Linked DNA regions of Homo sapiens. The protein of the gene in region 3 interacts with the protein of the main gene of each other region in a pairwise test. Each region holds a gene or a part of one and is shown on either strand. Other genes may lie near its edges. The genes, in order: ZHX1-C8orf76, PNKD, PAK1, SYNCRIP, GIT2, GRB10 and ZNF444.

The links.
Region 1: the proteins of PAK1 (region 3) and ZHX1-C8orf76 interact in binary tests that used the Homo sapiens proteins (3 or more experiments, as listed by UniProt).
Region 2: the proteins of PAK1 (region 3) and PNKD interact in binary tests that used the Homo sapiens proteins (3 or more experiments, as listed by UniProt).
Region 4: the proteins of PAK1 (region 3) and SYNCRIP interact in binary tests that used the Homo sapiens proteins (3 or more experiments, as listed by UniProt).
Region 5: the proteins of PAK1 (region 3) and GIT2 interact in binary tests that used the Homo sapiens proteins (3 or more experiments, as listed by UniProt).
Region 6: the proteins of PAK1 (region 3) and GRB10 interact in binary tests that used the Homo sapiens proteins (3 or more experiments, as listed by UniProt).
Region 7: the proteins of PAK1 (region 3) and ZNF444 interact in binary tests that used the Homo sapiens proteins (3 or more experiments, as listed by UniProt).

The regions. Positions count from the first base shown.
Region 1 is NC_000008.11:123,267,148-123,271,655, forward strand, and holds part of ZHX1-C8orf76 (zinc fingers and homeoboxes protein 1), read right to left. Parts: intron 240-4,508; 5' UTR 147-239; coding exon 126-146; intron 1-125.
Region 2 is NC_000002.12:218,335,875-218,340,382, reverse strand, and holds part of PNKD (probable thioesterase PNKD isoform 1 precursor), read right to left. Parts: intron 601-4,508; coding exon 485-600; intron 355-484; coding exon 242-354; intron 1-241. UniProt on the Homo sapiens protein: Probable thioesterase that may play a role in cellular detoxification processes; it likely acts on a yet-unknown alpha-hydroxythioester substrate.
Region 3 is NC_000011.10:77,463,563-77,468,070, reverse strand, and holds part of PAK1 (serine/threonine-protein kinase PAK 1), read left to right. Parts: intron 1-4,508. UniProt on the Homo sapiens protein: Protein kinase involved in intracellular signaling pathways downstream of integrins and receptor-type kinases that plays an important role in cytoskeleton dynamics, in cell adhesion, migration, proliferation, apoptosis, mitosis, and in vesicle-mediated transport processes.
Region 4 is NC_000006.12:85,632,250-85,636,757, forward strand, and holds part of SYNCRIP (heterogeneous nuclear ribonucleoprotein Q), read right to left. Parts: intron 1-4,508. UniProt on the Homo sapiens protein: Heterogenous nuclear ribonucleoprotein (hnRNP) implicated in mRNA processing mechanisms. Component of the CRD-mediated complex that promotes MYC mRNA stability.
Region 5 is NC_000012.12:109,982,108-109,986,615, forward strand, and holds part of GIT2 (ARF GTPase-activating protein GIT2), read right to left. Parts: intron 1,588-4,508; coding exon 1,501-1,587; intron 1,397-1,500; coding exon 1,266-1,396; intron 420-1,265; exon of another isoform or gene 1-419. UniProt on the Homo sapiens protein: GTPase-activating protein for ADP ribosylation factor family members, including ARF1.
Region 6 is NC_000007.14:50,776,068-50,780,575, forward strand, and holds part of GRB10 (growth factor receptor-bound protein 10), read right to left. Parts: intron 1-4,508.
Region 7 is NC_000019.10:56,147,218-56,151,725, reverse strand, and holds part of ZNF444 (zinc finger protein 444), read right to left. Parts: intron 1-4,508. UniProt on the Homo sapiens protein: Transcriptional regulator. Binds to the 5'-flanking critical region of the SCARF1 promoter.

The DNA.
Region 1 (4,508 bases), on a different chromosome or scaffold from region 3:
AAGCATATGTCTGCTGCTTTTTAAGGAAAGCTTTTAAAAACTTTAGACAAATATAGTATCATGGGATCTAAAGTGAGTACATTCAGTATCTGAGTTTTACCATACCAAAACAATGAAACACATACTTGCCACAGCTTCCTTAGCATTCTGTTCTTTGAAATGGAAGGGTATCCCTTCTAGTTAGATGTTTAGCTCAGGCCATCATTACCAACAGGTCCAAAGCAGCAGTCTGTCTTCTCCTACAAAAAAGTCATATTTTATTATTCTAGATATAATTTAGCCTTAGTCAGGAAATTTTTACAATTTAATGCCTTAGCTTTTAATAAATAAATGTAATTTTGAAAAAAAAAGTTTATTCCCTCATCAAAACTTTAAAAGAACCATTTAAATACCAATCCTAATATTGGTAGTAAACACAAAAACTACACATTAAAAAAACTCTATTTATATCATATAGAACAACTAAATAACTATTAGACCATTTTGAATAAAATTTCAAAACGTGAATATATGCCGTCTCTAGTGTGAAAATTGAGATGCAGAAATTGGGAGTTCTTTAAAATGAGTATACCGGCCGGGCGCGGTGGCTCACACCTGTAATCCCAGCACTTCGGGAGGCCAAGGCCGGCGGATCACCTGAGGTTGGGAGTTTGAGACCAGTCTGACCAACAAGGAGAAACCCCGTCTCTACTAAAAATACAAAATTAGCTGGGCGTGGTGGCGCATGCCTGTAATCCCAGCTACTCGGGAAGCTGAGGCAGGAGAATCGCTTGAACCGGGGAGGCAGAGGTTGCAGTGAGCCGAGATTGCGCCATTGCACCCCAGTCTGGGCAACAAGAGCGAAACTCTGACTCTAAATAAATAAATAAATAAATAAGTATACAAAGGTTATGAAGACAATTTAGTTAAACTAAGAAATGGGAGTAGTTGTATATGTTTATGTGTTAGTACATAAACCTAGTGATATTTGTATCCTAATTTATTATGTTAATCAGAATGGAGAGGATTATTAATGCTGACAACACAAGCCAAAACAAGTTAAACAAACTAGTAGTACTTGATCTACAAACATGGGGTTATCTAACAAAATGACTGGTGTTTAGCCATGTCGTTTTTGCCTGAAAGCTACTACCAAATGGCTTTACAATCAGTGCACTGTGAAGTATTAACATCATGCAATCAAATAAACAGAAAATAATTCTCTGAAAATTCAATTACTGTCCAAATATGTTGTTGTATATAATCTAGATCAGTTAAACCCATCAGAAAAGTTTAATAAAGCTACAATTGCTTTTCTTACTAGAACAGTCATAAATAACACTTTTGAAGGGTTAAAGCATTTTGGTTGTATTCTTTTTTTTTTGAGATGGAGTCTCACTGTGTCGCCCAGCTGGAGTGCAGTGGCGCAATATCGAATCACTGCAATCTCCGACTCCCTGGTTCAAGCGATTCTCCTGCCTCAGCCTCCCGAGTAGCTGGGATTACAGGCACACGCCACCACACCCAACTAATTTTTGTATTTTTAGTAGAGACAGGGTTTCACCATGTTGGCCAGGATGGTCTCTATCTCCTGAGCTCAAGTGATCTGCCCGCCTTGGCCTCCCAAAGTGCTGGGATTACAGGCATGATCCCTAACCGGCCTTTTGTTGTATTCTTTAAGCACTATTCTCTGTAAACTATAATGAATAAATATTAAGGAAGAGTATTTTCCCAATTAACCTTATTTTTTTATTCCTGCTACTATTACATACAAGTTTATGAAGAAACTTCTCACATCAAGAAATAATGTAAATACACCAGTCCTTTAGTAAAATACCTCTAGGTTAGGTTAAAACTTAGGCTGAATAAGTACACTATTTTCATGAAAAGCAAAAGAGCATTTTCCTGGTAGGCCCAGTGGAGCATCTTATTATCTCTGTAGCCTGGGACTCTACAGTTTCATTTCCTGGTATCTCCTTGTTCCGCCACTCGTTAGCCATCAATCTACAGGATGTGGACTAGAAGAGAAGATAGGAAACAGCTGCCAAAGAGGGAAGGTTATTTTCCAAAATGAATTATTAATACTTTAGGAATCTGGTAACCTACTTCAATCCATTCTTAAAATCACACAGTAATTGCAAGATATTTTACCGAATGAGTCTCTTGAGAAGAGCTGCCAAGACATGTAAAGGCACCAGGATACCAGAGGAGCAAAAATGAGCTCATCAGTGCTTTTGAATGAAAATCCTAGTTGCCTGATGTTATTTAAGTTCCTGATACTGGGATTACTTTAGAACATTTCTATCTAATTCAAAGTATTTTTCTTAATTTAGTATGAGTGAATTCCAAAAATTAAAGAGCTCATCTCAGCTATGTACATTATATAATAAAACAGAACAAGCTGTTCTGGTAGTAGATGGATTACAAAAAAAGACTGAGAGCTTGGAATTTGGAACAGACTGGGTTCAAATACAGCATGCCACTTACTAGCTGTGTGACTTTAGAAAAATGGCTTAGCCTATCTGTGCCTCAGCCCCATCATCTATAAATGGGACTGGTAATATTAATAGGATACTATTTACTTAATAGGGTTGTTGTGAGGATTGGAATAGGTAACACGTGTAAAGTTTCTGGAATATTCCTTGGTACTTAGAACACAATGAATGTTAGCAAAGAAATCTTTCTTTAAAATTTGCTAACTGTTGACAAGTGATAAAATACTTTAAGAATCTGGGTAACAACCAACCAACAAAATTTATTTGCCATTTCATACCTCTGAGCATATTAAATCATGCTGGAACAAGTTGGCTTCAAAAGGCAGATACTAATCAATCAAATTTAACCTCTCCCCCCACAAACTTTTTCTGACCTTAGCTTCAAAATAAATCATTACTGTATGACATATTTAAGGGGTATTTCATAGAACTAGCAAACATCTGATATAAGTAATTTTATCATAGTAACGAGGAGAAATTGTTCTCATGATCTTCCCCACTCCCAAGTATAGCCCATGTCTAGCAAAATTTTAACAAACTTCTTTTTAAGAATATTGATGGTAAAAGAGAATAAACTTAGAAGAAAAATATAATTATTAGTTTAGTGCTTAGAAATATCAGAACCTCCTATCTTCTTTCATTTCTCACTAAAAAACAAAAAAGGAAAAGACTTTTAAGAAGGGGAAAAAGGAAGTTAGAAATCTTGAGAAATAGGAAATCACCAAAATTTAATGAAAGAGTTATTTTATTTACAATAATATATGATATGGCTATGACTTCGATATTTTAATTTTGTTAAGATAAATTCTGATAATATTTTTTAAAATCTAAAACTAAGAACTGAAAATTAAAATCTTGCATTAAAAATGATTTATTTGGCTGAGTGCAGTGGCTCACACCTGTAATCCCAGCATGTTGGGAGGCCAAGGCAGAAGGATTGCTTGAGGCCAGGAGTTTGAGACCAGCTAGGGCAACACAGTAAGACCCTATCTCTACAAAAAAAAAAATTAAAAATTAGCCGGGCGTGGGTGACACATGACTGTAGTCCTAGCTACTCAAGAGGCTGAGGAGAAAGGATCGCTTGAGCACAGGAGTTTGAGGGTGCAGTGAGCCATGATCATGCCACTGCACTCCAGCCTGGGCCACAGAATGAGACCCCGTCTCAAAAAAAAAAAAAAAAAAATGTATTCAACTGGCTCCCTTGAATAAACATAATTCTTAAACTGCTCATATATACTTATTTTACAAAGTATATCATCACATTTGTTTAGACCAAAGGTATACAGTCTTACCTCTTAAGTTGGAAACTGATTGTATAAAATGCCAAGATTAAGTATCTTTTAAGATCAAAACCTGGCAACTACATACAAAGTTACATATTAATATTTACTTTAAGAATATCCTGTATAAAATGCAGATCTCCAAAATGTAAACTCAAATGTATATTCTGATTAATAATCTAAGTCAGCAACTTTAGTCATGCAAATCTGGTTATTGATGACTACAAATATATCAGAGCAACAAGGATACAATAAAATTTATCAATAATAGTATAGAAACATTGGCTCTTATTCTAAAGATAGTATCAGTTTTAAAAACAGAACTATAACTTACTTTTGAAACTACGTAGGATTATTTAAAAGGATTTTAAGTTCAAAAAATTTAGTCTTAACAGTAAATGTGCTTATCACAACATAAATAAATATTTATAATGATTTAAAAAATGTGTATTACTGGCTAGCACCATAAACAGTACAATAGATAATTCCAAAAATCTCTCTGAATAATTGCACTGACTATGATATTAGATTAAAAACTAGGTGCTGAACTTTCAACACTGTTTATTTAAGTAAAGTCTTTGGGCCCAAATCCACAATGCTGCAACACAAATAAAAGGGTTATTTCCTCAGCTACATTTGTGATCATTTTAATAATTTTAAAAGCATTTTCATTTAAGTATTAAGTTATAATTTACAGCAAACTAAGTCTCAAATATCACATTTTATGCTTAATTAGCATAAGAAATATAATACA
Region 2 (4,508 bases), on a different chromosome or scaffold from region 3:
TCCTGGGCCAACACCCCCAGCCCTCTGGCTCTGCATCCCCCACTCCTGCTCTCCCCTTCTGCCCAGCCATGCCCTGTACCCCCCTTCCCCAGGCTATGTGTGCGCATGTGCACGTGTGAACATGGAGCATATGGGACACATCCCACGGGCAGACGGACAAGGGTCAGCCCTCTCTAGCAAGGCGAAACTGCCAGTCCCCAAGGTGACTCCAGGCACCCCCTGCTCCCTGCCCTCCCCTCACCTGCACAGCCCGAGGGTCTGAAGGGTCCACAGCCACAGCCAGCTGGGCCTGGGTGTCGATGATGAGGTAGCTGTAGTTGTCCGAGAGGACAGGGATGGGAAGCACCTTCACTCCTGGGGACAGAGATGGGCTGTGGGCGGGGTAACAGGCAGGGAGCCCAGGGGCTGGGGTATGTGAAGGGGAGCAGGCGGGGAGGGTGGGGGCACAGAATGGGGGATGCTGGCCGGGGCAGTCAGAGCTCACCATTGAAGAGGCGGGGCTGGGTTTTCGAGTGGCCTTTAGGGTAGCGATTCCGAGCCCTGCGCAGCTGCTGTCGGTAGAAGAGGTACCCGAGCCAGGTGCGGGTGTACAGGCTGTACCTAGAGGGCGAGTGGGTGGCCTATGATTAGCCTTTTCTCCCTAGCTCCCCTAGACTCCTTCGTGATGCCTGCAGGCCCCACATCTCCATTCCTTTGGTGACCCTGTGAGCCAATGCAATTCCACTCTCACTTATTATGTGCCTACTGTTTGCCCTGCTTAGCACTCAGGACAAGATGGAGAATGAGACGGACACACCTAGAACTCAAAATCTATCAGGGAGACATGAACTGAGGAACTCACAGAAGAAAATTGGAGAGGCCAGGCGCAGTGGCTCACACCTGTAATCCCAGAACTTTGGGAGGCCGAGGTGGGCGGATCACCTGAGGTCAGGAGTTCGAGACCAGCCTGACTAACATGGCGAAACCCTGTCTCTACTAAAAATACAAAACTTAGTCGGGTGTGGTGGCACACGCTTGTAGTCCCAGCTACTCAGGAGGCTGAGGCAGGAGAATTGGGCATCGCACCACTGCACTGCAGCCCAGGCCAAAGAGTGAGACTCTGTCTAAAAAAAAAGAGAGACTTGGAGAGTGAGGGGTTTAATCTAGCCCAGGGTCTAGCACCTCTGATGAAGTGACATTTGCAGGGAAGAAGGAGTAGGAATTAGGAGGCTGAAATGAGGTAGAAAAAATATTTCAGAAAGAACAGTGGTGGTCAGACTTTAGCATGCATCCTAATCATCTGAAGAAGGTTGGGTACAGTGGCTCACACCTGTAATCCCAGCACCTTGGGAGGGAAGGAGAGAGGATCACTTGAGCCCAGGAGTTCGAGACCAGCCTGGGCAACATTGTGCCCTATAGGGTCTCTACACACACAAAAAAAAGAATAGCTGGGCGTGGTGGCACACGCCTGTGGTCCCAGCTACTCAGGTAGCTGAGGCAGGAGGATTGCTTGAGCCCGGGAGGGTGAAGCTGCAGTAAGCCATGATTGCACCACTGTACTCCAGCCTGGGTGACAAAACAAGACCCTGTCTCAAAAAAAAAAAAAAAAAAATCATCTGAGGCTGGGTGTGGTGTCTCACGCCTGTAATCCCAGCACTTTGGGAGGCCGAGGCAGGTGGATCATCTGAGGTCAGGAGTTCAAGACCAGCCTGACTAACATGGTGAAACCCCGTCTCTACTAAAAATACAAAAATTAGCCGGGTGTGGTGATGGGCACCTGTAATCCCAATTATCTTTTTTGTAGAGATGGGGTCTCAGTTTGTTGTCTAGGCTGGTCTCGAACTCCTGGGCTCAACAAATCCTCCTGCCTTGGCCTCCCAAAGTGTTAGGATTACAGGTGTGAGCCACCGTGTCCCACCTGAAATTCTTTTTTTTTTTTTTTTGAGACAGAGTCTCGCTCTGTTGCCCAGACTGGAGTGCAGTGGTGCAATCTCGGCTCACTGCAACCTCCACCTCCCAGGTTCAAGTGATTCTCCTGCCTCAGCCTCCCGAGTAGCTGGGATTACAGGCTCACACCACCATGCCCGGCAATTTTTTGTATTTTTAGTAGAGACAGGGTTTTGCCACGTTGGCCAGGCTGGTCTCAAACTCCTGACCTTAGGTGATCCGCCTGCCTCGGCCTTTCAAAGTGCTGGGATTACAGGTGTGAGCCACTGTGCCTGGCCAAGCCTGAAATTTTTGTTTGTTTGTTTGTTTTTGAGAGGGAGTCTCACTCTGTCGTCAGGCAGGGGTGCAGTGGTGCAATCTCAGCTCACTGCAACCTCTGCCTCCCAGGTTCAGGCGATTCTCCTGCCTCAGCCTCCTGAGTAGCTGGGACTAGAGGCGTGCACCACCACACCCAGCTAATTTTTGTATTTTTAATAGAGATGGGGTTTCACCATGTGGGCCAGGATGGTCTCGATCTCTTGACCTCGTGATTTGCCCACCTTGGCCTCCCAAAGTGCTGGGATTACAGGGGTGAGCCACCGTGCCCGACCCTGAAATTCTTAATGATTTTATCTTTGACCTTGTGTCTTGCAAGTGGAGCCTGATAGGACAGTGGGACATGCAGGGAGCAAGAGACACACACAGTGAGTGTGCTCCGTTCCTCGCTTATCATACCTATACAGAGTCTGCAATGCCCATGAGCACACAAATCTGGGGGACACACAACGCATGGGAGTTCAACAAGACTCAAAGCAAGTACAAGGCGAGTGCACACCTATGACTGACCCAAGAGGCCAAGCTTTCAGTTCAAACTAGAACGTGCTTCAAGTGCACAAAGACAGAGGTGTTCTAAGAAACACGAATGACCAAGGAACTCTGCTGCATCCTTTCTTGCTTTTGTGTTATCCACCTATTTATGCTGCAAATAGCGATATAGAAAGGAAAGGGAAGATAGGGTAACCAATCCATCCTTTTCCTTTCCATCCTTCCTTATTAACTAGCAAGCCAACAGTGCTGGCAGAATGTGCACGTATTAAGAATTGAAGGCCGGGCGCGGTGGCTCATGCCTGTAATCTCAGAACTTTGGGAGGCCAAGGCAGGTGGATCACATGGTCAGGAGTTCAAGACCAGCCTGGCCAAGATAGTGAAACCCCATCTCTACTAAAACTACAAAAATTAGCTGGGCGTGGTGGCAGGCGCCTGTAATCCTAGCTACTTGGGAGGCTGAGGTTGTAGTAAGCCGAGATCTCACCACTGCACTCCAGCCTGGGCGACAGAGTGAGACTCCATCTCAATAAAAAAAAAGAAAAGAATTGAAGGCTGGGTGCAGTGGCACACACCTGTAATCCCAGCTCTTTGGAAGGCAGAGGCTGGTAGATCACTTGAGGTCAGGAATTGGAGACCAGCCTGGCCAACATGGTAAAACCCCATCTCTGCTAAAAATACAAAAATTAACAGGGTGTGGTGGTGGGCGCCTGTAATCCCAGCTACTTGGGAGGCTGAGGCAGGAGAATCACTTGAACCTGGGAGGCGGAGGTTGCGGTGAGCCAAGAAGATCACACCATTGCACTCCAGCCTGGGCAACAAGAGTGAAACTCTGTCTGAAAAAAAAAAAAAAAAAAAAAAAAAGAATTGAAGGCCAGGTGTGGTGACTCACTCCTGTAATCCCAGCACTTTCGGAGGTGGTGATGGAAGAAGTGCTTGAGCCCAGGATTTTGAGACCAGACTGGGCAACATGGCGAGACCCTGTCTCTACTAAAAATGCAAAAATTAGGCAGGCATGGTGGCATGCACTTGTGGTCCCAGCTACTTGGGAGGCTGAGGTGGGAGGATCACTTGAACCCAGGAGGTCAAGGCTGCAGTGAGCCATGTTTGCACCACTGCACTCCAGTCTGAGTGACAGAGGAGACCCTCTCCTGGTAAGAACTAAATACACATCCATGTATAAGCTAAGAAATATTAATTATGTCGTTTCTGTGATTCTACAGGAGTTAAATGTCCTTATATTTGTATTTAAAACAGGCATTGCACAATATTAAGCAAATGGTAAAATTCCTGCTAATAATTTAAATGCTTCTTACTTAGAATGACATTAAATAGCAAATTAAAAACATCACAGGTCAAAATAGAGATTGTAGAAGAAAAAAAGCTTCATATTTTAGTACTTTTAATGGCTATTTTTTCCAAACTTTTTTTTTTTTTTTGAGATGGAGTCTCACTCTGTCACCGTGCTGGAGTGCAGTGGCACGATCTTGGCTCACTGCAACCTCTGCCTCCCGGGTTCAAGTGATTCTCTTGCCTCAGCCTCCCGAGTAGCTGGGATTACAGGCACCCACCACCACGCCTGGCTAATTTTTGTACTTTTAGTAGAGACAGGGTTTCACCATGTTGGCCAAGATGGTCTCAATCTCTTGACCTCATGATCAACCCGCCTTGGCCTCCCAAAGTGCTGGGATTACAGACATGAGCCACCACGCCTGGCTGACCCTAAGTCTCTACAAGGATTGACCGTGTATGTGGGAGCAGGGGCAGCCGCTCTTCAG
Region 3 (4,508 bases):
ATCTGCCTTTTGAATCTTTTGGGATGGCAAATGACAATGACAGTATATGCATGGCTTCCACCCTCATCTGCCTGCCTATATCTTTAAGGTCCAGCTTTCCTTATTTCCTCCTGGATTCCCACAAAGCTAAGATTGATGTCTTCCTCACTGGTGGAACCCTTGATTTGTGTATTACTGCACTTACCAAGGGAGGGTTTAAGGAAGAGCACAAAATTTGAAGTTAGACAAAGAGCTACTTGGACACTTATTTAAATCTCTATTTGTTCATTTGAAAGAAATAATACCTAACTTACAGAATTCTTGTGAAGATTAATAATATATGTAAAAGTGAATTGTAAGATACTGAGCTATATAGATGTTAGGTAGAGTAGTTTGTAATTTTATGACTATGATTGTGTGTAGCAGTGGTTTTAATTTCGGCTATGCACTTGAATTACTTGTGAAGATGTAAAGAGTTGCCTTGGCATCTCTATTTTGAAAGGTTTATAGGTGATTCTGATATGCAAAGTTGAGAAGCACTGCCTTATATTAACAATGTTTTGCATAAATGTCTTATGTAAGTATTATATGAAAAGTAATATTTTATTGCCATTTAAAGTTCATTCATTTGCTAAATACATATTATGCATCAGGCATTGTCATAGGTTCTGAATAAACAGATGAATCATAGCCTCTACCCTTGGGTTTATAGTTTCCGGGAGAAACAGACATGTGCATAGACAATTACACTACATTGAGACAAAAAATGACAAAAATATGGAGATAAGTGCAAGTGCCATGTGAACACAGAGGAAGGGCATCTGCTGCACTTGAAATGGGGGTGGCCTGGCAAGCATTCTTAAAGGAGGTGACATCTAAGATGGGTTCTGAAAAATGATCAGGGGTTAACGAAGCACAGTCAGGGAGGGGTGAGAAGAAAGGGGAGATGATGGACCCTCTTGAAAGAGAGAGCAATATGTGAGCAGAAGATTTGAGAGCCTGTTTGGGGAGCCCTGTGTAGTTTAGTATGCTTAGAAGATAGGGTGTAAAGTGGGGAGGCGTGAGAGCAGAGAGGAGGCAGGGCCCAGATGATGAAGGGCCTTTTGTATAATGTACAAAATACTTTTACTGATATTATCTGACTTTATTCTTTGGACAATCCCCTGGGTTAGCTAGGACAGGTGTTGTTTTATATTCATTTGATAGAAGAAAACACAAAGAGGTTAATTGACTTGCTGAGGCTATACAGCACAGCTAAGATCTGAAGCCAGGTTCTTATGATTGTTTAGTTCATCATGCTTTTTCTATTACACCATAGCCGTCTTAGACTTTTGCGGTGTGGTAGGGAATCAGGTAAGCTCTGTGGATATATGCACAACAATTTGGAAGCTGTAATGTGCTAGACTGATGTTGGCTAACTCATTTTACAGATGAGGAAATTTAGGAGCAGAGACATCAAGCTGTCATTTGAAGACTTTTTTTTTTTTTTGAGATGGAGTCTTGCTCTGTCGCCCAGGCTGGAGTGCAGTGATGCGATGTCGGCTCACCGCAAGCTCTGCCTCCCGGGTTCACGCCATTCCCCTGCCTCAGCCTCCCAAGTAGCTGGGACCACAGGTGCGTGCCACCATGCCCGGCTAATTTTTTGTATTTTTAGTAGAGACAGGGTTTCACCGTGTTAGCCAGGATGGTCTCAATCTCCTGACCTTGTGATCTGCCCGCTTCTGCCTCCCAAAGTGCTGGGATTACAGGCGTGAGCCACCTCGCCCGGCCTTGAAGACATTTTTAAAAATTATTACTGTGTAACCACAGCAAGTCACTTAACCGTCCTGAGACTCAGTTTTCCTTAGCTGTCATATAAATGTGTTGAATTTGATGCCAACTTCTTTGCTTGAATATTTCGACAGTGATTCTTAACCTTCTCACCTACTCCCTGCCCTCACCCTTTCTCTGTGATACACTGGGATGTAGTCCATCAGTAACAGTATTTCACTATGGAAATAGTTCCCAATGGGCTACAGGAACAAAATGTAAATTGCCAGTTTTGGGGATGGGTAAAGAGGGACTTGGTATAGTTGGAGGGGCTCTTGGTTCTCCAATTACCTGTTAGAGAATTACTATTAATATTTTATTTATTTATTTTTTTGAGACAGGGTCTTGCTCTGTCATCCAGGTTGGAGTACAGTAGCTCCATCATAGCTCACTGCAGTGCTGCCCTCCCGGGCTCAAGCAATCGTCTCACTTTAGTCTCCGAGTAGCTGGGACCACAGGGGCATGCTACTAAGCCCAGCTAATTTTTGTATTTTTTGTAGAGACAGGGTTTTGCCGTGTTGCCCAGGCTGGACTCAAGTGAACTGCCCGCCTCAGCCTCCCAACGTGCTGGAATTACAGGCATGAGCCACTTTGCCCGGCCAAGAATTACTATTTTATAACATTCCCTCCCACTTATTTTCTCATATGGAATTATCTCACCAGTCCAGAGTCTGAGATTTTTTTGGTATCCAGGATAGATTTTGCTTAATTTAATAAATTACATATGTAATTTGTAAAGTAACTTAAAAAAAAATAAAGAACCAGGTGAGCAAAATGAGAAAGCCCATTGTGATAGACTTGAAAAGTCCAAGTTTCCTGGACTTTCTAGAGATTATATATAGGATTATATATATAATTTTTGTGCTTTACTGTTTTCAAAACCCTTTTATATAGAGTCTCATTTAACTTAATTCTGTTCTTTAGCCATCATATTTTTATAAATGAACAGAAGTTAAGTGGCATGATTATGTAGCTGGGAAGTTACAAACTGGAATCTTTAATTCATATTTTCTGTCTCCAAATCTGGTCACCTGTTCCTGATCATTTGGGTGCTGCCCTGACCAGTGGCACTTTTTAAAAAATTGTAGGTTCCTAGGAGAATGGTAAAATATATTTATAGTTCCCTCTAACTCTTTCAAAAAATCGTTTTTTTACTATCCATTGCCACTTGCCGGATAATTGACTTAGTTGACTATGTGGTAAAGGTTCCAGGACAGTTAGGAATGGCTGCTGAGTATATTCTTCACACACACACAGACACACACACAGACACACACACACACACACACACACTCTTTCATGTATGTACCAATCCAATACAGCTGGTCCCTGACTTACAGGGGTTCAACTTAATGATTTTTCGACTTTATGATGGTGTAAAAGCAATATGCATTCAGTAGAAACCATACTTGGAATACCCATCCAATCACTTTCAGTGCAGTATTGAATAAATTACATGAGATATTCATCACTTTATTAAAAAATAGACTCTGTGTTAGATGATTTTGCATAACTGTAGGTGAACGTAAGTGTTCTGAGTATGTTTAAGGTTGGGTAGGCTGAGCTACGATGTTTGGTATGTTAGGTGTATTAAATGCATTTTTGACTTAAAGTATTTCAGTGTAAGTTGGGTTTATCAGGTCGTAACCTAATCATAAGTCAAGGAGCATCTGTACAGCTCTATAGTGCTTCTATTTATTCCTTAATTAGACTACACATATTTATTGATTTCTTCCTGTGTGCCAAGCATTGTACTTAGTACTAAGGATACACTCATAAATAATACAGACATGGTCCTTGTCCTTGCTCTTACAAAGATTACATTCCAGAGGGTAATACAGAGAAAAGTAAGTAGATATACAAGTGGACAGTTGCAGATTTTGATAAGTCCTACAAAAGAGATAAAGGACTAATGTAGAGAATTTTGGAGTGATAAGGAAAAGACCTCATTGAGGAAATGATGCTTTTAAACTGAGATGTGCATGATAAATAGATTTTAGTCATGCAGAACACTGAGGGGGAAAAAGCATGTCAGGCAGAGGGAACATTTTAAATGCACAAAGGCCCTGAGAGTAGGTAAAAGTTTAGAGATGTGCTGCTCAATATGGTAGCTACTTAGCCAGTGTGGCTGTTGAGCACACTGACTGATTCACATAGAGATGCACTGTAAGTGTAAATAAAATACATACCAGAGTTTGAAGACAATACTGAAAAAATAATGTAAAATAACTCATTAACTTTTTATATTGGTTATATGTTGAATTGTTAATATTTTGAATATATTGGGTTAAATGTATTTTAAAATTAATTTCACCTCTTTACAAACTTTAAAATATGGCTACTAGAAAATTTGAGATTACATATGTGGCTTTTCTTTAAGGCTAACCGTATCTTTCAGTTGGATAATGCTGGTTTACCTCAACATAGAGGAACTAAAAAAAATTATGGCTGTTGTATAGGAAGCAAGAGTAAATGGTATGAGATGAAGTTGGAGTGGGAGGAAGAGACCTTTCAAAACGCTACCCTGTGTAATATCCTAGTTAATCCGAAGGGACTGAGAGGGGATTATCAAGTCTGATTTTATAGATGGAGACAGTAATTGCCAAAGTCTCTCTTCTCCTCTCTAGAGTGCTAGAATGAGGAGATGAACAAGCACTTTTAGCATAGTATCTTGGGAGTAGAATGCTCTATTTCATTGTTAGCTAAAACAAACAAGTAAA
Region 4 (4,508 bases), on a different chromosome or scaffold from region 3:
CTCCAGACACTCAAAAGAGAAACAGAGGTGCTTCAATCTTGTCTGATCTATAAATAATGCAAAGGAGGCATGAGGCACTTTCCCAACATTTAGTTATATATAACTAGAATGACACTTCAATTAAAAACTCACTTTGGATAGAACTGTAACAAGTAGAATCTCAAAATGTAACACAGTAGAGATAGCTTCCAAAGTATGCGCCCTTGAGGAACATACTTAGGAAAGGGGTATTCATGTCCGCAAATGAATACAAAGTGGCAAAAAACATCCAAAAAAACTTGAGATTTGTATTTTCTCTAGAATGTTTCAATTACTTCACTTTCTCTAAAATCTAGTTCTTTGTTGTGCTAAAGCAAATCTACCAGATCCTACCCACAGTAAAGCATCCTTTTAAAAAAAAAGTAAACAATGGCCAGGCGCAGTGGCTCATGCCTGTAATCCCAGCAATTTGGGAAGCCAAGGCAGTAAGACTGCTTGAGGCCAAGAGTTCAAGACTAGCCTGGACAACATAGTGAGACACCACCTCTACAAGTTTAAAAATTAGCCTAGCAAGGTGGTGCCCTCATAGTCCTAGCTGCTGAGGAAGCTGAGGCAGGAGGATCACGTAAGCCCGGGAGTTCAAGGTTAGTGAGCATTGATCATGACACTGCACTCCAGCAAGGGCAACAGAGTGACAACCTGTCTCCGAAAACAGTAATAATAATTAAAACCGTTTACTTAAGGCCGGGCGCGGTGGCTCACACCTGTAATCCCAGCACTTTGGGAAGCCAAGGCGGGTGAATCACAAGGTCAAGAGATCGAGACCATCCTGGCTAACACGGTGAAACCCTGTCTCTACTAAAAAAATACAAAAAAAATTAGCTGGGTGTGGTGGTGGGTGCCTGTAGTACCAGCTACTCAGGAGGCTGAGGCAGGAGAATGGCGTGAACCCGGGAGGCAGAGCTTGCAGTGAGCCGAGATTGCACCACTGCACTCCAGCCTGGGCAACAGAGTGAGACTCCATCTCAAAAACAAATAAATAAATAAATAAATAAATAAATAAAATAAACAATTTACTTAAAAGTAGGCTGGGTGTGGTGGCTCACACCTGTACTCCCAGCACTTTGGGAAGCCGAGGCCGAGACTGGGGTCAGGAGTTTGAGACCAGCCTGGCCAACAGGGTGAAACCCCATCTCTACTAAAAATACAAAAATCAGTAGGGCATGGTGGTGTGCACCTGTAATCCCAGCTACTCAGGGGGCTGAAACAGAAGAATCACTTGAACCCAGAAGGCAGAGGTTGCAGTGAGTTGAGATCACACCACTGCACCCCAGCCTGGGCAACAGAGGGAGACTCCGTTTCAAAAAAACTTACTAAAAAGTCAAAAAAAGCAAATGATGGTATGACCAATATATCCTACTGGCTGTATACCAATACCTACCATTGGAAATTTTTTTTTTCCCCCTTTTTGGTTTTTTGAGACAGGGTCTCTGTTGCCCAGGCTGGAGTGCAGTGGCATGATCACAGGTCATTGCAGCCTTGACCTCCTGGGACCACAGGTGCACGCTGCCTGGCTAATCTGTTACTTTTTGGTACAGATGGGGTCTATGTTTCCCAGGCTGGTTTCAATCAATCCTTGCACCTCAGCCTACCAAAGTGCTGGGACTACAGGTGTGAGCAACCACACCCTGCCAAAAGTATCTTTTAAAAGACAACAAAATGCAAAGTCTCCTATTAATTAGATAGTACAAAATAATTATGCCCCCAGAAAAGGATTCAAATCACAACAGAGAAACCCAGAAAGAAATGTAGAAAGTTTTAGGACAAGGGTTAATTCCTACGCCAATCAAAAAGAATGCTTATCTATAGAAGTTTCTCCATTATATTTAAAAACTATATTAATAAGACTATATTCTAAGCAACCTACAGCAATGCAATTTTATAATTTAACGTATTTATTAAACAAGGCAATTGTACAAATGGAAACATTTCCTAGTGTCTACTGGCACTCGAAATCACTGTTACTAATGGATTATAAACCATCTTCCTCTAATGATGTATCTTTACTGTAAAGTTTCTGGAAAACATCTATAAATAAGTTATAGTGGTCACCTACCATAATTGGTACATTTTGACGGCAAGAATTAGGTAACCTACGATGTCAGTTTAATGATTCTTTTTCATAATGTTAAAAAATGGATGACACCACTAGCTAAATTCTGCAGTGGTCCCTCAGCACATACGGGGGACTGATTCCAGGAACCCATACCAAAATCCATGAATGCTCAACTCTCTTAAATAGCATAGTGTTTGCACATAACCTACGAACATTCTCTCATACACTGGTGTGTTGTTTTTTTTTTTTATTGGGTTTTTTGGGAGTATCTTCAATCCTCAGCTAGCTGAAACTGTGAATGCAGGACCCACAGTAGAGAGAGCCCACTGTATTAGCTTTCTGTAGTTATGATACCTCATTGCTTACTGGATCATTCTGCATTTTCACTTACTGCTACTTTATTGCTACTTGGCAAAAATATTCTACTCTTTTATAGGAGATTAAAGGATTTTGGGACAGGCAAGGTGGCTCATGCCAGTAATCCTTGCACTTTGGGAAGCCGAGGTAGGAGGACTGCTTGAGACCATGAGTTCAAGACCAACCTGCCAGGCACAGTGGCTCATGCCTGTCATCCCAGCACTTTGGGAGGCCAAGGCGGGCAGATTACTTGAGGTCTGGAGTTCAAGACCGGCCTGGCCAACATAACCCCATCTCTACCAAATATACAAAAATTAGTCAGGTGTGGTGGTACGCGCCTATTATCCCAGCTACTCGGGTGGCTGAGGCAGGAGAATTGCCTGAGCCCAGGAGGCAGAGATTACAGTGAGCCAAGATCATGCCCACACACTCCAGCGTGGGTGACAGAGACTTTGTCTCAAAAAACAAATCATAAAAACAAACTAAAGGATTTCTAAGGTACCTCTTTCTAGAGCTCTAAAATGCCCCTCCCCTCAAATTGAACTGCTGAAACTAAAATTTTGACAACTCAAAGGTTACCAGTAAATCTGAATTCCCTCTAAAACACAAAGCACTCTTTTATGAAGAGAAAAATCAGACATGATTTGAAAATATCTAAATTCTCAAATTCTCTTTGTAAAGGCTTATATTCTTTCAAGTAACATAATTTTGTACTGTTTAACTTCCATCATACTCAATTATGCAAACCAGTGGGGAATATTCACACAACATAGAAAAGGAAGACTTGGCCGGGTGCAGTGGCACACGTCTGCAATCCCAGCACTTTGCGGGGCTGAGGCAGGCATATCTTCTGAGGTCAAGAGTTCATGACCAGCCTGGCCAACATGGTGAAACCCTGTCTCTACTAAAAATACAAAATTTAGCCAGGTGTGGTGATAAATGCCTGTAATCCCAGCTACCGGAGAGGCTGAGGCAGGAGAATCGCTTGAACCTGGGAGGCGGAGGTTGCAGTGAGCCAAGATCGCACCATGGCACTCCTGCTGTCTAGGTGACAGAGTGAGATTCTATCTCCCAAAAAAAAAAAAAAAAAAAAAAAGAAAAGGAAGACTTATGAGTTTTATTTTTCTCTTTAAGGCTTGCTTAAAGTGATAAACCTCATGGTAAAGGAAGGGGTAAAACTCAGGAGGGAGGGAAAAAAAAATGAGTCTGAAGATTTTAAGTTTGTCTGGAATTACCCACAGGATACGTAAGCCAGATAAAGCAAATTTAACAAACATGGCATAGTGAGCTATCTTGTACAAAAGTTCTCCCCAGTCGTGTTGCTTGATACATTCTATGGGTTTAAATTAGCCCCCAACTCTTCAACTATAAAATGCAGAAACCACTTCTGTCACAGAACTTAATAAAACTAGTTTAAAGGACTTACATAAACTATAATTTAAAATATTAAAATTTCTTTCTAGCCAGGCGTGGTGGCTCACGTCTAAAATCCCAGGACTTTGGGAGGCCGAAGCGAGTGGATCACCGGAGGTCAGGAGTTCGAGACCAGCCTGGCCAACATGGCGAAACCCCATCTCTACTAAAAATATAAAAATTAGCCTGAGCGTGGTGGCAGGCGCCTATAATCCTAGCTACTCGGGAGGCTGAGGCAGGAGAATCACTTGAACCTGAGGGGTGGAGGTTGCAGTGAGCCGAAATCATGCCACTTCAGCCTGGGCAAGAGAGAGAAACTTGGTCTCAAAAAAAAAAGAAAAGAAAAAAGAAAAATTTCCTTTTTAAAAAAGTTGGAAAGATTACCAGGTCCTTACCTAACATCTGGTATTTTTAAATCAAACATTGCCACTCACCATAAAATCTTTTGTTTCATCAACTAGAAATGTATCACAATGTCTTTTGTGAATTATTTAAGAAAAAGAGATGGCTCAGGTATGGCCAGGAAGTATGAGAGCTCTTACCACAGTTACTTTTCTTAATCTTTTCACATTCCTATAAATTTAAACAAACACACAAAAACGTCACTAAGCCAGATGTTTATAAGAACCAATTGCTAGGAATT
Region 5 (4,508 bases), on a different chromosome or scaffold from region 3:
CTCCTGCTGTTATTCCCAGACCCACTCTGTTCTTTCCAGTCAGGTCTCCTGCTGTGCTGAACACACTTTGTCCCTCCCTGCCTCCTGATCTTGACTCCTGCCTTTCCTCTTACCTGGAATGCTTCAGCTCTCCCTTCACACATTCAAATCCAACCCATTCTTCAAGACCAGCTGAAGAAATTTCTTAAATGATTTGGACCACAATGAAGAAACCCTATATATGCTTTTTAAGACCAATTATCTATTTTGGCAATGAATCCCATATGGTCTTGCCTCCTTGAACTCTTTCAGGCATTTATGAATCATCTTTTCCAAGAGAGTAAATTCTGGGAAGGCAGAGTTTTGTTATTCACCCATTTTATCCTCTGTGGAACAGAGTATTGTGCTTCACAGTTAATAAAAGTACTTTGGAAAAAGAAGGAAAGATGACTGATCTTTGGCCATTTAAATGATATTCAAGACTAACCTATAGATTTATTTTTCAAGGACTTTATTAATAAAGAAAAATTTAAATAATTTTACAGTGAGCACTTTTTTTTTTTTTTTTTTTTGAGACAGAGTCTTGCCCTGTTACCCAGATTGGAGTGCAGTGGCATGGTCTCGGCTCACAGCAACCTCTGCCTCCCAGGTTTAAGTGATTCTCCTGCCTCAGCCTCCCGGGTAGCGGGATTACAGGTGCCTGCCACCATGCCCAGCCAATTTTTTTTTTTGTATTTTTAGTAGAGACAGGGTTTCAGCATGCTGGCCAGGCTGATCTCGAACTTCTGGCCTCAAGTAACCCACCCGCCTTGGACCCTCAAAGTGCTGGGATTACAGGTGTGAGCCACCATGCCTGGCCTAGAGTGAGCACTTAGATGTCTACTACCCAAACCTTACAATTAACTTTTTACTATACTTGTTTAATCACATATCTATGTATATATTTGCTTTTAAGTTCAAGAAATAACTAAGAGTATTAAAAAACAGAAGAGTACATTCTGTAATTCTTGATACTTGATTTGGAATCTGACTACAGCTCAAACATCACTGTGTTATAAAGGATCAAGTAAAAGACTGGAAGCTTAGCACACTGGTTCATGATTCTAGCCTTCCTCAACTTTGCCAGGCTGAGCTTATATGCATTTGAAATGTCTTCATCTGTAAAATAAAATAACGTACATCTTTAAAGGGGTTCAATATCAACATATACAACTTAGCTACTTAACAAGGAATCACACCCAACAAAAAAATCCCAGAGAGAAGTAGCGAGAATCTAGGTCTCTTACCTTGCATAATCAACGGGAGTTTTCCCACTAGAATCCTGTGTGCCTGGGTCTGCTCCATATACTGCCAATAATTCAGCCTGTAAAATCTGCCCTGCTTTGGAGGCAACATGGAGTGGGGTGTTTCCTTTTTCCTAAGAATCATTAATAAAAAGTAGGCAAAAGAGCACATTAAATAAAGGCTACATGAACACAACTCACTTAGTTTCAATATCTGAAGCAATTCATGTTTTCTTACAGGATGAAAGAAGTTGGCTTGTGCTCCTAAAGATAACAGTCTCAAACAGGTTTCAAGATTCCCTGTTCTCACGCTCGAATGGAGTTGCTGAAAAACGCAGAAACAAAAAAGGAATCGTGGTTAGAGGTGTAAAGAATGATGTCCTAGGGCAGCTGATAGACCATTTTAATATATGTTACATCAGTAACGCATAATCTTTATTTGTCTCGGTAAAGTGCATGGACCAGTCTCTCCTTTGCCAGTCACAACTGTCCCTGGGCTGTAAGGTGGAGTGAGGCCACTTTACTGATAAGGAAACTAGGGCTGTGAAGGCTGACTTGCCCAAATGCATGACTTATCTAAGAAGTGGCACAACCAGAACCTGAGTGAGAGGCAGGACTGTGTGAAGAGGTGACTATGCGTGGCTCTGACATACGACAGACCTGAATTTCAAACTATACCCACTTCAAGCTGTGTGGCCTGGAGAAAGGGCTTTAAGCAATCTGAACCTCACTTTCCTCATCTCAAAAATGTCAACAATGGCCAGATGCAGTGGCTCATGCCTGTAATCCCAGCACTTTGGGGGGCTGAGGTTGGAGGATCACTTGAGCCCAGGGGTTTGAGACCAGCCTGGGCCACATAGCAAGACTCTGGCTCTACAAAAAATACAAAAATTAGTTGGGTGTGGTGGCATGCGCACCTGTAGTCCCAGCTACTAAGGAGGCTGAGGTGGGAAGATCACCTGAGCCTGGGCAGTGGAGGCTGCAGTGAGCTGTGATCATGCCACTGCACTCCAGCCTTGGTGACAGAGCGAGACCCTGTCTCAAAAAAAATAAAAAATAAAAAAAATTTTAAAAGGTGGCATTTTTCTTTTTAGAAAGGGTCTCGCTTGCTCTGTCATCCAGGCTGGAGTGCAGTGGAGTGATCATGGCTCACTGCAGCCTCAGTATCCTGGGCTCAAGCAATCCTTCCACCTCAGCCTCCCAAACAGCTGGGACTACAGGCGCCGGCCACCATGCCCTGCTAACTTTTTATTTTTCAATACAGATGAGGTCTCACTATGTTGCCCAGGCTGATCTCGAACTTACGAGCTGAAGTGATCCTCCCACCTCGGCCTCCCAAAGTGTTGGGATTACAGGCATGAGCTACCGTGCCTGGCCCTATTCACAGGGTTATTATAAGGATTTAGTGATATAATAAAGTGCTCAAAGAATACAAATGCTATAATAACAGTTATTATTATTAGTTGTTACTGTAATTAGGGCTTTAGGACTTCAAATTCTACACTGTGTAAGCTACAGGATCCTGCCTTATACAATACCCTCTCTACCACATTATTCTTGGCCTGTATAATATGCTTTAATAAAGTCTTTCAGGGTAGGAAAAGGCCCGTGATATACCGAATTCTGTACTACTGCAGAAAAGCTCTTATACAGTCAGAAGATGAGCTGCCTTCCTTCAAATCTAACCTAGAATTGTCCAAGATGCAGTAACCCTTATCACAGGAATGAAGAAATCTACTCTAACATCTAAGTTTAATTTTTTAAATAGTTTTTTTGTTTTTTAAACACAGGGTCTCGTTATGTTGCCCAGGCAGGACTGAACTCCTTGGCTCAAGCAACCCTTCCACCTCAGCCTCCCAAGTAGCTAGTATTACAGGGATGTGCCACTGTGCCTAATTTTTTAAAACTCTGGCAAGGAAAAAAAAACAAAAAACAAAAAACCCAACACATACCAAGTCTTATTAATCAATGGAAGTAGCTAGTATATGCATTTCTATGCAAAATTTCAAATTCTGAATTCTTCAGCCAGATTCTGCTGGGGATTAAAAAAGGGGGGGGAAAAAAGGCCAGATGTGGTGGCTCACGCCTGTAATCCCAGCACTTTGGGAGGCCAAGGCAGGCAGACTGCTTAAGCCCAAGAATTTGAGACCAGTATGGACAACATGGTGAAACCCCATCTCTCCAAAAAGTCAAAAACTGGCCAGGCGCGGTGGCTCATGCCTGTAATCCCAGTACTTTGGGAGGCCGAGGCAGGCAGATCACTTGAGGTCAGGAGTTCAAGACCAGCCTGGCCAACATGGTGAAACCCTGTCTCTACTAAAAATACAAAAAAAATTAGCCGGGCATGGTGGTGGGCACCTGTAATCCAAGCTACTCAGGAGGCTGAGGCGGGTGAATCGCTTAAACCCAGGAGGTGGAAGTTGCAGTGAGCCGAGATCGTGCCACTGCACTCCAGCCTGGGTAACAGAGACTCTATCTAAAAAAAACAAAAACAAAACACACACACACACACACTAGCCAGGCTTGGTGGCACATGCCTGAGATCTCAGCCACTTGAGAGGCTGAGGTGGGAGAATCATTTGAGACTAGGGAGGTTGAGGGTGCAGTCAGCCATGATTGTGCCACGACACTCCAGCCTGGGCAACAGAGTGAGACTCTGTCGTTTAGGCTGGAGTGCCGTGGCATGATCTCAGCTCACTGCAACCTTCGTCTCCCCAGTTCAAGAGATTCACAGCTGAATTCTACCAGACATACAAAGAAGAACATCCTACTAAAATTATTCCAAACAATCAAAGAGGAGAGACTCCTCCTTAACTCATTCTGTGAAGCCAACATCAGCCTGATACCAAAATCTGGCAAAGACACAACAAAAAAGGAAAACTTCAGGCCAAAATCCATGATGAACACAGATTTTTTAAAAAACTCTTAACAAAATATTAGCAAACCAAATCCAGTAGCACATCAAAAGTTAATCCACCATGGCTGGGCGCAGTGGCTCAGGCCTGTAGTCCCGGCACTTTGGGAAGCTGAAACAGGCGGATCATGAGGTTAGGAGTTCGAGACCAGCCTGGCCAACGTGGTGAAACCCCGTCTCTACTAAAGATACAAAAAATGGCCGGGCGTGGTGGCTTACGCCTGTAATCCCAGCACTTTGGGAGGCCGAGGTGGGCGGATCACGAGGTCAGGAAATCGGGACCATCCTGGTTAACACAGTAAAACCTCGTCTCTACTAAAAATACAAAAAAA
Region 6 (4,508 bases), on a different chromosome or scaffold from region 3:
CATTATCTTGATGAATAGCATCTGGCTTCCTTCTATCCATACTAATCTCCTTATCAAAAGGTCACTTGGCCACACCCTTAGTGTTTTCTCCCAAACATGTTTTTACAACCTGGGCAAGCTAAAAATTTTCCATATCCTTAAATTCTGCTTCCTTTTCTTTTTTGGAAACAGGGTCTCATTCTGTCACGCAGGCTAGAGCGCAGCAGCAGAATCATGGCTCACTGTAGCCTTGACCTCCCAGACTCAAGTGATCTTCCCACTTCAGTCCCCTTGAGTAGCTGGGGCTAAGTGCACACCACCACACTCCGCTAATTTTTTTTTTTTTTTACTTTTAGTAGAGATAAGGTCTCATTATATTGCCCAGGCTGGTCTTGAACTCCTGAGCTTAAGCAATCCTCTCACCTTGGCCTCTCAAAGTGCTGGGATTACAGGCATGAGCCATAGTGCCCAGCCTCTGCTTCCCTTTGGATTATAAATTCCATTTTCAATTCATTTCTCTCACATTTTACTGTAAGCAATTAAGAGAAGTCATGCAGCATACTGAATACTATGCTCACGGATTTCTTCCACCAAATATCCTAGGTTGTCACTCTTAAATTCTGCCTTCCCCAAAGCCCTAGAGTATGGGCACAATTCAGCCAAGTTCTTTGCGCCTTTGTAGCAAGGACTGTCTTTCCTCCAGTTTCCAATAAGATATTCATTTCCATATACGACCACAGCAGAACGGGCTTTACTGTCTATAATACTACCAGCATTCTGATCACAGCCACTTAGAAGTTTCTAAGAAGACACTGGTTATCTCTACGGCTCTCCTCTTCTTCTGGGCCCTCACCAGAATCATTCTTAATGCTCTGTTCACAGAAATTTAGGCTTTTTCTAGCAAACACTTCCAAACTGTTCCATCCTCTACCCATTACCCAATTCCACTTTTCTTTTAAGTATTTGCTATAACAACACCCACTCTCAGTATCAATTTCTGTCTGTGCTGCTATAACAAAATCCACAGGTTAGGTAATTTATAAATAATAGAAATTTACTTCTCATGGTTCTGGAAGAGAGGAAGTCCAAGATCAAGGCACTGGGGTTCAGTGTCTGGTGAGGGCCTCTCTCTGCTTCCAAGATGGTGCCTTGTTGCCACACCCTCCAGAGGGGAACAAATGCTGTATCCTCATATGGTGGAAGAGCAGAAGAGAGCAAACCCATTCCCCCTCAGGCCCTTTTAAAAGGGCCCTAATCCCATCTATGTCCACTCTTATGACTTAAACACCTCCTAAAGGCCCCACCTCTTAATAACATCACGTTGGCCATTAGGTTTCAACACATGAATTTTGGGTGATACATTCAGACCACAGCAATCTGTATACACACACACACACACACACACACACACACCATTGCACATATCTGTAAATATACTAATTATAATTGAATTATATACTTCAAATTTAAATGAGTAAATTGTATGGTATGTGAATTATACCTCAATACAGCTTTTTTTTTTAAGAGAGGACTGTATGAAAAAACTAGCCCATAAAGATACATGCACACCTATGTTTATTGCAGCACTACTTACAAAAGCAAAGACATGGAACCAACCCAAATGCCCATTAATGATAGACTGGATAAAGAAAATGTGGTACATATACACCGTGGAATACTATGCAGCCACAAAAAGGAATGAGATCATGTCCTTTGCAGGGACATGGATGAAGCTGGAAGCCATCATCCTCAACAAACTAACACAGGAACAGAAAACCAAACACTGCATGTTCTCACTCATAAGTGGGAGCTAAACAATGAGAGCACATGGACACAGGGAGGGGAATAACACACACCAGGGCCTGTCAGGGAGGGGAGAGGGACTGAGGGGAGGGAAAACATCAGGACAAATAGTTAATGCTTGGGGGGCTTAAAATCTAGATGACAGGTTGATAGATGTAGCAAACCACCATGGTACACGTATACCTATGTAGCAAACCTGCACGTTCTACACATGTATCCCGGAACTAAAGAAAGAAAAAACTAGCCTAATGAAATAATCAGCACAAGAGGGGTTCTAACTCCACCCCGACCCCCCAAAATTTGGAACCACCATAGTCTAGCCATCTTCCTCTTAAAGTGTCATAATACATTGTGGCACACAAAATTTTCTGAAATGTTGTGCCATAAAGAAACCAACTTTATCTAATCCAAAGTTTCCTCACTTATTTGGCAATAAATTATTAGCTCCTGTAGTATCTAAAACCTTCAGGAAGCATTAAGTTGCCCAACATCACCACCAGCCTAGGAAGACTGTTAATGAAAGATGACAAAGGAATGGGTCCAAAGTCCCATGGAGCCCATCAATGCATTTACTGATCAACTAGGGCAGGCACAAATACAAACATTCAAAAATGTCTTTGCTATCCAAGGAAGAACTTTGGTGGTAGAATTTTTCAAAAGGTGGCATTAAGTAGAGGTGATCCACACAGTGGAGCCTTATACACAGAACAGACTCACAGTGCAAGCAAGACAAAAGCTGCTTTAATACCACCTACCCTGACAGGGAAATAATGGGACAACCCAACCCTACCTCCAAGGGTAGGGTCGGGCTAACGCTGACAGAAACAGGCAAGGGCCCCAGCCAGAAGCCCCACTGGGACATCTTTATTGCTTCTTTCTATGGCTTGGAGGCCTTCCAGGTTCCAGGCTGTGATGCTGAGACATGAAGGCACTGAGCAAGGACCTTGGAAGAAGTGGGGTGTTAGCATGCACAAGCTCAAAGCAGATACAATTCCTACATTCTTAAAAGAAGGCAGGTGGGGCTTCCAAATCCGCTCAAGATTCAAAAGGTTTCAAACCTTTCTAAAAGTGTTCTATCATCATAAACAAAAGAGAAACCACTAAATAAAATCCACAGGAATCCAAACAAATGTCAAAGCAGGACACTGTACAAATATTTGCCCCTGGAATAAAGTATGGACACATTTAAGAATGTCATTTACAACAATGTAGGGCTAATCACTAGAAAATTCTTGGTACAAAAATTCTTAGATTAAGTAATAGCATTATTAATAATAGTTCTTACCAGGTAAAGTGTCCTCTTCAGAGAATTTCTAGAGAAAAAGACACTAAAGTGAACACAGGGGGAAATGCATTAAGACCTTACTGCACAAAGTGTGGGCCACTGACCAACTGCAAGCATAACACCTGGGAGCTGGTCAGAAACCCAAAACCTCAGGTCCCAACCAAGACCAACTAAATTAGAAGCTGCATTTTATTATCAGCCCCAGGAGATTCCCATGCATATTAAAGTTTAAGTTGTGGTATTTTCAGACATTGTTAATATTTAACTTGTATCAGAACTGAAACGTGCCAGCTCCCTTTAAGAAAATAAATAAGCAAAATATATTAACATCACTATTTTATTGTTCAGTCAACACAGGCCATCCCTCTACTCACCCTCCCTTCCTACACAGATTTCATTATTTTCCATCTAAGTAAGGCAGGAACAGATGACGGAGACAGACTGGCTCCTCAAACACCTGTTGAGTGAATGACAGGCGGGGTCCCTTGTCAAAAGCCACCCAGAGCACTCCTTGCCATTCTCATCCCACTTGAGTGCTGAACAACTGCTCAGAATTACACAGCCATTGTTGGCAACGGCACATCACCAGTCTCAAGCCACCAGGACTACCTTGACAACACTCAGAAGCTGGCTCCCAGACACTGCACAGGAAAGGAAAAAAATTATTTGTAGGTGACTTACAGGTACCATTTACACATTTAGAATTTTCTTCCCTCACTAATATGAGATTTGAGCCTGAGGCATCTAGAGTTCAGCCCAGACTCTTCCAGCTGCCTTCAGGCAAGTCTCCACAGACCAGAAATGCCCCTGGAGAGATAGTCCTGGACCCCCTGACCGAGGAGGCAGAGAAAAAAAGGGAAGAAAGAAGCAAACGGGGCCAATAAATGCCTACTGGCCCCCCAATCCTAGTCACAGCTCAGCATTTTCTGGCCCCTTTAATTTAACCTCTGCCGGCCGTGAGAGGAACAAAGCCCATTCCACATGAAAACAGAAGAAATGTGTCTCCTGAACAAATCAGAATAAACCGTCATGGAAAGGGTTCCAGGGTTTGGGATGGGTTAGGACTTTGTGGATCATGCCCAGCCAGTGAATTCTGTGAAATATGAGAAAATATGGTCCATCACACCAGTTCTGCACGTGATGCATGGCCATGCCCACTACCAGATGTGCCAAGTTATTTAATCTGACAGAAGCAAAAGGCCCACATAAAGGCCTCTTTTGACATGTGCTCCCAGACCTCCTAGGGTCCACAGGACTCATACTGCCTCAAGGCCTCCCCTCATTCTGCCCTTGACCCTTCAGACAGGAGCTGCTAACTTTCTAACTGAATCACCAGAAGCCCCAGTAGTTACAAGGCCCAGAACACCACATCAGTTCTCAGACTTTATACTTGTAAGAATCACCTGGCATGCTTTACAAAGACAAAGAATTCCAGGTCCCA
Region 7 (4,508 bases), on a different chromosome or scaffold from region 3:
TCAGCTCCCACAGACCAGATGCCAAGAAACCCCAATGCACAGCAGCGCCCCCAGATGTCAGCTGTCTATACACCACCGTCAGCTCCCACAGACCAGATGCCAAGAAACCCCAATCCACAGCAGCGCCCCCAGATGTCAGCTGTCTATACGCCACCGTCAGCTCCCACAGACCAGATGCCAAGAAACCCCAATCCACAGCAGCGCCCCCAGATGTCAGCTGTCTATACGCCACCGTCAGCTCCCACAGACCAGATGCCAAGAAACCCCAATCCACAGCAGCGCCCCCAGATGTCAGCTGTCTATGCGCCACCGTCAGCTCCCACAGACCAGATGCCAAGAAACCCCAATCCACAGCAGCGCCCCCAGATGTCAGCTGTCTATGCGCCACCGTCAGCTCCCACAGACCAGATGCCAAGAAACCCCAATCCACAGCAGCGCCTCCAGATGTCAGCTGTCTATGCGCCACCGTCAGCTCCCACAGACCAGATGCCAAGAAACCCCAATCCACAGCAGCGCCCCCAGATGTCAGCTGTCTATGCGTCACCGTCAGCTCCCACAGACCAGATGCCAAGAAACCCCAATCCACAGCAGCGCCCCCAGATGTCAGCTGTCTATGCGCCACCGTCAGCTCCCACAGACCAGATGCCAAGAAACCCCAATCCACAGCAGCGCCCCCAGATGTCAGCTGTCTATGTGCCACCGTCAGCTCCCACAGACCAGATGCCAAGAAACCCCAATCCACAGCAGCGCCCCCAGATGTCAGCTGTCTATACGCCACCGTCAGCTCCCACAGACCAGATGCCAAGAAACCCCAATCCACAGCAGCGCCCCCAGATGTCAGCTGTCTATGCGCCACCGTCAGCTCCCACAGACCAGATGCCAAGAAACCCCAATCCACAGCAGCGCCCCCAGATGTCAGCTGTCTATGCGTCACCGTCAGCTCCCACAGACCAGATGCCAAGAAACCCCAATCCACAGCAGCGCCCCCAGATGTCAGCTGTCTATACACCACCGTCAGCTACAATGGCTATCGCCCAGGCTCTTATTACTCTTCTTTACTTTTACCTAAAACTAAAATAACACTGACTTAAGACCATGTTGTATCATTGCTGGAAATGGAAAGCCAGTATCATGTGCCAGAGAGAGAGGTCATGGGAAATTCCATCACTCACGGCAGTGTTATTCCCGTCTGTGTGGACACTGATAGGAGAAGGCTCTGAACCTGAGATCTGCCCTTATTAAAAAGAGAGAGTAACAGATACAAGAGAGATGCTAAAGACATCCCAGAGCCACAGTGAGAGGTTCGCCTCGGAGCAAGCAGAGAACGCAGGAGAGTCCCGACGGCCTGGAGCCTGGTGATTTCCCGACTTTTAGATTCACTGAACCAACAGAACTCTCACTGCATCCCCGAATGGAAGATTTTTTTTTATTTTGCAAGATATATACATTAAAAGCAACAATAACCACCACCTACTTTTACCATCTTTTCCTAAAAGAACATTTTAATGCCAACAAAACAGATGGCATGAGCTCAGAGTGGTAACAGTGGCTGAAATCTACCTAGACAGCACCCATGTGCCAGGTCCTGTTCTGAGGAGTCATGGAAACTGGAAAGGGCGAAACCCCGAGGCTCACAGATTCCACGTTGGTTCTGTTCCACCCCCACTTCACCTTGCATTCACCTCGCCTCTGTGGCAGACAGAATAATGGCCCCAAAGATGTACACGGTCTGATCCCCAGAACCTGTCATCTGCTGTCTCAGGGCAACAAGGACTCTGTGGATGGGAGGGAGTTAAGCACTGACATGGGGAAACTCTCCTGAACTATCCTGACGGGCCGAATGTCATCACAGGTGACCTAAGACGTGACCACAGTACACCATGGAATACTATGCACCAATGAAAAAGAATGAGTTCATGTCCTTTGCAGGGACATGGATGAACTGGACGCCATCATCCTTGGCAAACTAACACAGGAACAGAAAACCAAACACCATGTGTTCTCACTCAGAAGTGGGAGTTGAACAATGAGAACACATGGACACAGGGAGGAGAACATCACACACCAGGGCCTGTCGGGGGGTGGGGGAAGGGGAGGGAGAGCATTAGGACAAACACCTAAGGCATGTGGGGCTTAAAACCTAGATGACAGGTTGGTATGTGCAGCAAACCTTCATGGCACATGTAACAAACCTGCACGTTCAGCACATGTATCCCAGAACTTAAAGTAAAATAAATAAATAAATAAATAAGTGACCACAGGACCTAAGTGGGTCAAGGTCAGAGGAGTGATGGGGGATGGAAGCAGAGGTCAAGGTCAGAGGAGTGATGGGGGATGGAAGCAGAGGTCAAGGTCAGAGGAGTGATGGGGGATGGAAGCAGAGGTCAAGGTCAGAGGAGTGATGGGGGATGGAAGCAGAGGTCAAGGTCGGAGGAGTGATGGGGATGAAAGCAGAGGTCAAGGTCGGAGGAGTGATGGGGGATGGAAGCAGAGGTCAAGGTCAGAGGAGTGATGGGGGATGGAAGCAGAGGTCAAGGTCGGAGGAGTGATGGGGATGAAAGCAGAGGTCAAGGTCGGAGGAGTGATGGGGATGGAAGCAGAGGTCAAGGTCAGAGGAGTGATGGGGGATGGAAGCAGAGGTCAAGGTCGGAGGAGTGATGGGGATGGAAGCAGAGGTCAAGGTCGGAGGAGTGATGGGGGATGGAAGCAGAGGTCGGAGTGCAGCACTCTGAGGACGGAGGAAGGGCCATGAGCCGAGGAATGCGGGCAGCCTCTAGGAGCTGGAAAAGGCCGGAAACGGATTCTCTCCTAGAGCCTTGAGAAGGGACGTGGCTCTGCAGATGACACCTTGATTTTGGAGACTTGAGAAGGGACGTGGCCCTGCAGACACCTCGATTTTGGGCCATGAGACCAAACCATTTTGGACTTCTGACCTCCAGAACTGTAACAGACTTGTGTGATTTCTAAGCCGCTGCGTTTGTGATTTGTAAGCCGCTGCGTTTGTGATTTGTTACAACCCACTTTTGGGAACAATGACCCGGAAGGAGGGCGAGGATAGAGAAGCCAGAGCCAGCACAGAGGTGCCAGGAGGCAGGAGCAGAGGAGGGGCGAGCTGTATCCCAGACAATAAGAGGGGGGAGTGTCTGGGGGCTGGTCGGGCCGCATGAGAAGGGAGACGGATGAGGCCACTGGCAGCCTTGACGGGAGCTGCTCCCTCTGGAAGGAAGGAAGGCCGCCCGGCTGCCATGGACTGAAGGCTTTGCTCGCTTTGCCTCACCGAGATGCCCCCTCTCTGCTGCTACATCTCAGCACCCAGCAGGCACTCGGTACGCACTTATGAGGAACACGCGACTGCTCTGACTCTTCACCCTCCTGCCACTGGGGACTCAGGCCTGGCCGCAAACACCCCCTCACTCAGGGCCCCTGTGCCGCTCGAGGTGGCTCAGGGCCTTTGCACTGGCTGCTCTCGTGGCCTGGACCACTCTTCTCAGAGGTCTCTGCGTGGCTGCCCACCGCTCATCACCCAGGCCCCACACAGCAGCCACCAGCCATGGGAGAGTGCCACTACTGAAAGGATGGTATTTTGAACACATTGGGGTCCATGAAGTAAATTTGCCTTTTTTTAACGTGCTGACTAGAACACTTAAGATGGCATGTGCAGCTCACATAACACATCCCCCGACAGGACTCTAAGCCAGGCTGGCAACTTCCCTGACGGGGCCAGGCAGTCAACACTTCCAGCTCCTCGGGCCCTCTGTGGTCATCACGGTGGCAAGTGTCAGCCCCAGGTGACATGAGTGGGTGGGTGTGGCTGTGCACCAAGACTTCACCCAGAACGTGAGTCGGCCCTTGCCTGCTGTGTGGTCAAGAAACCAAACCTGCCCAGAGAGGCCTGGCTTTGCCCTCTGCCCCTGGGAAGTCATCTCTGAGCCCTTGGAGCCTCACGCATGATAAGGAGGGTCTGCCTGCCCCGGGGGACTCAGGCCAGCCCAAAAGCAAGATGAATTTGGGGTAGAGTTTGGACCAGGGGGTATCCTTGACTTTCAGGGGGCGGGAGGCTGAGGTCAGCCACACAGAACGGGGAGGAGTCCCCAGTAAGAACCCAGGACACCACGGTCTGAGGAGAATTCCTGGCCGGCAAGACCCCCTGCGTGCGGGCGGGGTGCGGGGAGAGGACAGCTGGTAACTGCGCTCCCTGGAGCCTTCGTGGCCTTCTTCCCAGCTGCTTCCAGCACGTCCTTCTCTGATAAGCCGTGACCGTGAACACGGCTGTGAGTCCTAGAGAACTCGCAAGTATGCCAGGGTCTTGGGGCCCTCCTGACTTGCAGCTGGTGTGGGGATGGAGGGTGCCGCACGTGGACTGTCCCTCCACGCTGTACCGCAGCCTGTACCGCAGCCTCCCCACCGCGAGTCACACTGGTTTTCAGGGGTTCAGTGGTGCTCCTCCCTGGGCTTCCTGGTGGCTTCCCTGGCACCTTCCCCTCTCCCTTCCCCGCTTGCAGTCCCGC